Homo sapiens: one gene and its partner. The protein of the gene in region 2 purifies or fractionates together with the protein of the main gene of each other region. This does not show direct contact. Each region holds a gene or a part of one and is shown on either strand. Other genes may lie near its edges.

Region 1 (3,314 bases), on a different chromosome or scaffold from region 2:
GTTGACTTATACCAAGAAGGACAAGCACCTAAGTACTGAGAGCTTCAGGATAAATGAATGGGCTTCTTGCTGTAAATGGAAGGAAATTCAGGAAACAGAGACTGGGCAGGTGAACAGGACAGCAACTTAACCTTCATCTGCTTTCCAGGGATTGTACATCTTGTTCTTGATGTCTGTTACCATTGTTCCTGGCAGGTAAAAGTCTTATGAAAAATCTCAGAAAGGCTGTACCTGCTTTTAGAACAGGGTCCAGTGAGAAACCTTTGAGTCTGCTGTGCTGACCTAGGATGGGGAAGGAAAGGAGCCCTGACTCAAAGGAGCAGCCATTAATGGAAAGGAAGAGGAGTGTCAGTCTTTCCTCTATCTATACCAGTAGAGAATAGGGAACTAGAGAGGCAGTCTTTCCTCTATCTATACCAGTCTATCTATACCAGTAGAGAATAGGGAACTAGAGAGGCAGGAAGAGGGAAGGGAAGGGCAGGTTAAATCCCAACACTCTGCTCTCTACTGGAGTCAAACTCCTTCCTCCTGCCATACCTGCCACCTTCACAAACAAAGCAGCCAATGCTGCCTCTTCCTCCCCTCCCAAATTCCAGCTCATCATTCAAACCGTGGTGTCTTATGTTTGGGCAAAGCCCTGCCTCCTCCTACAGATGAAGGAATAAGCCATCATATCAACCCAGAGACAGTGTCTTATGGCTAAATAGAGCCAGTTTCCTTCAATAGAAAGACTTGACAAATGGACATCTTGAAAATAAATATGCTTTGGTAATAGCTGTGTAAAAATCTGTAGTTGTAGGTCTTAGAAAAATGAAGCATGGGCCGAAATAATTTTAATCCTCTTGGGTCTCTTTGTGGGCACATATCTAGGCATACTGTCCCTACAAAGCTAAACAAAACTAATATTTGTTTTTGTTTTGGAAGAGGAATGATGGAGATTTGTTTGTTGTCTTTTTAATGTATAAGATTGTGGAAATGATTAAGGTCATATGGCTCTTAGAAAGTTTGATGCACTTATATTCTTTCATCAACGTGAGAATTAAAATGTATTTTCTGTCTTTCATCATTTAGTTAATTGCACTTAAGCGGAAGATATTTCCCAGAAGGAGGATACACAAAGAAGCTAGTCCCAATCGAATCAGAGTATAGAAGATCTTCATTTGAAAACCATCTACCTCAGCATTTACTGAGCATTTTAAAACTCAGCTTCACAGAGATGTCTTTGTGATGTGATGCTTAGCAGTTTGGCCCGAAGAAGGAAAATATCCAGTACCATGCTGTTTTGTGGCATGAATATAGCCCACTGACCAGGAATTATTTAACCAACCCACTGAAAACTTGTGTGTTGAGCAGCTCTGAACTGATTTTACTTTTAAAGAATTTGCTCATGGACCTGTCATCCTTTTTATAAAAAGGCTCACTGACAAGAGACAGCTGTTAATTTCCCACAGCAATCATTGCAGACTAACTTTATTAGGAGAAGCCTATGCCAGCTGGGAGTGATTGCTAAGAGGCTCCAGTCTTTGCATTCCAAAGCCTTTTGCTAAAGTTTTGCACTTTTTTTTTTTCATTTCCCATTTTTAAGTAGTTACTAAGTTAACTAGTTATTCTTGCTTCTGAGTATAACGAATTGGGATGTCTAAACCTATTTTTATAGATGTTATTTAAATAATGCAGCAATATCACCTCTTATTGACAATACCTAAATTATGAGTTTTATTAATATTTAAGACTGTAAATGGTCTTAAACCACTAACTACTGAAGAGCTCAATGATTGACATCTGAAATGCTTTGTAATTATTGACTTCAGCCCCTAAGAATGCTATGATTTCACGTGCAGGTCTAATTTCAAAGGGCTAGAGTTAGTACTACTTACCAGATGTAATTATGTTTTGGAAATGTACATATTCAAACAGAAGTGCCTCATTTTAGAAATGAGTAGTGCTGATGGCACTGGCACATTACAGTGGTGTCTTGTTTAATACTCATTGGTATATTCCAGTAGCTATCTCTCTCAGTTGGTTTTTGATAGAACAGAGGCCAGCAAACTTTCTTTGTAAAAGGCTGGTTAGTAAATTATTGCAGGCCACCTGTGTCTTTGTCATACATTCTTCTTGCTGTTGTTTAGTTTGTTTTTTTTCAAACAACCCTCTAAAAATGTAAAAACCATGTTTAGCTTGCAGCTGTACAAAAACTGCCCACCAGCCAGATGTGACCCTCAGGCCATCATTTGCCAATCACTGAGAATTAGTTTTTGTTGTTGTTGTTGTTGTTGTTTTTGAGACAGAGTCTCTCTCTGTTGCCCAGGCTGGAGTGCAGTGGCGCAATCTCAGCTCACTGCAACCTCCGCCTCCCGGGTTCAAGCAGTTCTGTCTCAGCCTTCTGAGTAGCTGGGACTACAGGTGCATGCCACCACACCCTGCTAATTTTTGTATTTTTAGTAGAGACGGGGGTTCCACCATATTGGTCAGGCTTATCTTGAACTCCTGACCTCAGGTGATCCACCTGCCTCTGCCTCCCAAAGTGCTGAGATTACAGGCATAAGCCAGTGCACCCAGCCGAGAATTAGTATTTTTATGTATGGTTAAACCTTGGCGTCTAGCCATATTTTATGTCATAATACAATGGATTTGTGAAGAGCAGATTCCATGAGTAACTCTGACAGGTATTTTAGATCATGATCTCAACAATATTCTTCCAAAATGGCATACATCTTTTGTACAAAGAACTTGAAATGTAAATACTGTGTTTGTGCTGTAAGAGTTGTGTATTTCAAAAACTGAAATCTCATAAAAAGTTAAATTTTTGTCTGACACTTTGATTTTTAAATCTTTGAGGATTGAGTTTACTGTTACTCAGATTCAGCAGTCACTTGAGTGCCTTTACTGTGTATCAGGTTCTGTGCTGAACATTACTAAAATTAAGTGGAAAGTAAGGAAAGATTAGTATTATACAGAAGAATGTTGCTTTATGGGGGGAAAATAGTTTCTAAATGGAATTTATCATATGGTAAAATTTAGGATATCTGGGTATCATTATAAAAGCTGAGATTTATTCTAGAAAAGTTAGAGAAATGAACATTTGTCTGTAATGACGATTTCTGTGGTTAGATGAATATAGTCCATACCTAATTAGGAGCTTGATAATGGGATGGATAATACAATCATAGGCTATTCATAGACTCATTCTAATGATTCTGTGATTCAGTAGAATCATTAGAACAGAGGAACCTCAGAAGTTGATGAGCAGTCAGATGGTCAGAACCATTTGTTCAAATCCTATAGAAAAGGTCACTCTGTGTTTTAGTTTTTTT
Region 2 (3,833 bases):
AAGAACTGACTGGTTTTGAATCTCAATGAAAGAAGGCTCATAAAATGCTCGGTAAGGCTAAGTCTAAGTAAGCCTCCTTTAGTGCTCCAGTGGCAGTGTGTGAAACAAAATTGGGAACAGGATCAGCCTCTTCTCTTACCCCCATCTCTGTCTCATTCTGTAAACCATAGCAGTTTAATACCCGGAGGAAGCAGAGCAGTCCACATCAAAAGGCAGCTACACCAAGCGGGGCAGTGTTTTCATAAAAAAGCATTTCTGGCAGTGGTGGTGCCTGTAGCACTGTGGTCAAGGAGTCCAGAGCAAAGAACCTAAGTGGACCTTTCCTGAGCATGTGTGACATGCAGTCTTGGGGAATCAGAAGCAACTGGAGAGGACGGGGGTAGAGTGGCTAGTCCACAGTGAGCAGGCAGGAGGCTCTGTACGGTTCAGATGCAGAGATTCCTGTGAATATCATCACATTAGTATTGATGTACTGGTTTGCATATACTTAAAAGTAGTATTGGTTTAAAACTGATAGTATAAACAGCAATCTGTTCAATATAGTGGGAGAAAACTTTTCTGTATGCTGCAGAGTGCTTTGTGGCATGGTAGAAAATCTCACCTGAAAATAATTTACATCCTGGGCTCCGATAAATATTCCAATACTAATTTATACCATCTTTTTAAACCATAATAATAATTTATATATCAGTTCTGCTTTTATCTCTAAAACAAGAGTGGTGATATTTGGCACTACATGGGCTTACAAATTGCCTAGAGAACAGATGCTACATATGTTGTTTTAATTCATTTTTGAAAGTTAAAATTTGCTCTTACCAAGTTTTTATATAAGATTGAGGTTTTGGTGCTAAAAGAGCTAGAAGTCCTAAAGGGGTATTGATATTTCATCTACACGAAATACCAACAGCTGATGAAGAACTTAAAGTGGATTAGGAATTCAAGTTTCCTCTGTATATTGAACAGGTTTTGTGCCACCTCAGTCTTTCATCACAACATCTGTTTCTCGTTAGCAAATGCAAGCTGTTGTTTCCAGTGCTCTAGGAAGTTCATAAGCAGTCTGAGGCAAACTTTGCAGACTTATAATCACACTTGCTGCTCCACATTCTTTGGAACCAGAAAAGTTTGGTCATCTTTTTCAGGCAGCAAAAAAAGCAAATGGGTTTTATTTATAAAAACAAAAAGTGAAAATTCATGCAATAAAGAATGCTGTTATTAAAATATGGGAGAATATGGACCCTGAATTACTCATTGAATTTGCTAATTGCTATCTTCTCCACTGCACTTTATCATTGTAAATTAATCAGAATGTGATCAGCAATAGCTGCCTGGATCTGTTCTTCTGCCTCATCTGTTGTAGTAATTGCTTTCACAGGTGCAAAGTGGAAAGCAGGCATCCTCTTGACAACTTGGAGACCAAAGCACTACCACTAAAAAGTAGGAATAAAGGAGAATTGGCCTTTCCTTTCTATACAGAGAACCAGAACATATTCCCTGGGATAACTATTCCACTAACCTCTCTTACTTTGTCTTTGGGCACAGAAAAATGCCATGGTTAAGCAAAGCCTAATATAAAATTAGACAGTTCATTTTACTGAACTCACTCATGAATTCTATTGATTAAATAATTGATTCTCAATTTTACCTCCTGTGGAACACTTGTGTTCATTGAATATTAAAATATTAAAAATATTACCGAATAAAAGATTTCCTTAGTCAAGCAGGTCTTGAAAAGACTAAACAAATTCCCCCAACACATGACTTTTCAGATCCTTAGACGTGGCAATTTCCATTGAGAATCTCCACACATACATCATTTTTAAAACTTACTATTCAAATTTCATTTTTAGACATCATTGTTTGATGGAAAGAATCTCTATTAATTTGCAGATTTGCAATATTTAACAAATGTATATCCTCAGTTTTCCTACTGTAAAGGGGGTATTTAAAAAGATTTTGTAAGTTTATTGTAAGAAATGAAAGAATTCTGTGAGGTGCCTGGTACTCAAAACATGGAACTTATTGCTTGTTTCCTTATTAGTATTATTTACAGCATAATACGAAATCACATGTTATGAAACACTGACTCATATTCAGTTTCCCATGACTACTTAGTTCACCATAAGACAGTGTCAAGCCATAAAGTTTATTGTGCTATAAGGCCATTTTCCTCTTTGGATGTGCCTTTATCATTAAAGATTTCTTTAGAGGCCAGAAAGTTTAGCCTAATCCTCATATACTTCCAAAGAAGGGGGCCTGGCTTCGGAAAATATACACTAGTCACAAAGGCCAAGTACATTCATCTGTATGTTTTACTTTAACCAAATAATTCCTTGGTACTCTAAATTCAACTATACTTTGAGTTTTATTCTAGAATCATCACAACTGTAATTTTAGTGGTTCATGAGTCTGCTTTTTGCTATTAGCTTGGATAACCAAGAGTTAACCACCTCTAAAATTAAATGGCATTCCTTTAAATTTAAATGAATTAGACCATGGTGCTTCTCTTGGTCCCAGGATAAATGCCATGGAAATTAAAGAAAATAGTTCTAATGTCATGAAACAGCAAAGGTCACATAGGGTGAGATGATTGCTCTCATCATTATTAACATTGCTTTGCATTTAGATAGCCCCTTTCCTTTGCCAGACTCATTCTCATTCCATCCCATTGCTTAGCCTCCGAGCAGCTTGTGGAGCTCCTGATGACATCAAGGGTGATCGTGATGTGGAAGAGATACTGAGAGTCAAGAGGGCAGTAAGCAATTAATCTTTAGGCTTTATTTGCTCACTCTGATCTTCTTTTTGCAAACAACCTCCAAAAAAATGGGTTAAATAATACCCATCTAAATATAAAGTCTCTCCCGGGACTTCAGCGTTATTTGGATTTTATTAATATTTGTGTTATTAAAATACAAATTTAGTGTTTTTTAAATACAAATTTTAAAATTGTAACTGTGTGTGTGTGTGTGTGTGTGTGTGTGTGTGTGTGTGTGTGTGTTTATGGGTGTATGTGTTTATGAATATATGTCTGGAAAGTTTGGGTGTTTGTTGCCTAAGCCAGATAGTACCTAAAGTGCTAATGTGTGTAAGAAAAAATACAAACAAAACACAAATATAATTGAAAATAGAGGAGGAGACTTCCTCCCTTTTTCTGACAGCATTTACTTTAGAAAACTTGTAATTAGAAGTACTTTCTCCTCTCTTTGAAGTGTGTATTAATCCTTTTGAAAACTAGATAGGATTCTTGTAAGCTTTGTGACCCAGGAATGTCTTTCTCAAGGATCTGAGAGTCATCTCTTTGAAATGTAAACATCAAGGGAGATGGTAGCCTTATGTCCCTGTTTCTGCGCTTAGGGTAGGAGCCTAATTTTGATGTGAGCCTTGCTCCAAATTGCAAAATTACCTCCTGTCATAAAGATATGAGAAGTTACTTTTTCCTCTGGATAAAACAAATCAGCTAACACAGATGGTCACCCTACTTACCAGGTAAAGTGAGGATTCATATGTGTGACAAATGGTCCTGTCAAGTCCTCTTACTTGAGGACTAGTTATTGTCTATATTGAAAACATATGTAATGAGTTGTCTCTGCTTGGCTATATATAAGGGCGAGGTTTCTTTCTGTTTTTGTAATCTCTTACTGATTACCTGTGATGTGAATCACATTCTGGTTTAATGCTTATTTAATGATAAAAGTGTTTTTATTTCTCTACTACCTAGGCAGAGAGGATTTCTAGGTTGGGAGAAGATTTTGTTTTTAGTTATATTTCCACAACAAATAATTGTGCTTTTAATTGGAATAATTGGCTCAAGAAAATGATAGAATACACTATCAGTT

Evidence for each region.
Region 1: the proteins of ZPLD1 (region 2) and GNPTAB purify together in Homo sapiens (affinity purification with mass spectrometry; 2 studies listed by BioGRID and IntAct, with this or other methods). This does not show direct contact.

What each region holds. Positions count from the first base shown.
Region 1 is NC_000012.12:101,744,999-101,748,312, reverse strand, and holds the end of GNPTAB (N-acetylglucosamine-1-phosphotransferase subunits alpha/beta precursor), read left to right. Parts: intron 1-1,071; coding exon 1,072-1,149; 3' UTR 1,150-2,814; downstream 2,815-3,314. UniProt on the Homo sapiens protein: Catalyzes the formation of mannose 6-phosphate (M6P) markers on high mannose type oligosaccharides in the Golgi apparatus.
Region 2 is NC_000003.12:102,441,482-102,445,314, reverse strand, and holds part of ZPLD1 (zona pellucida-like domain-containing protein 1 isoform 2 precursor), read right to left. Parts: intron 1-3,833. UniProt on the Homo sapiens protein: Glycoprotein which is a component of the gelatinous extracellular matrix in the cupulae of the vestibular organ.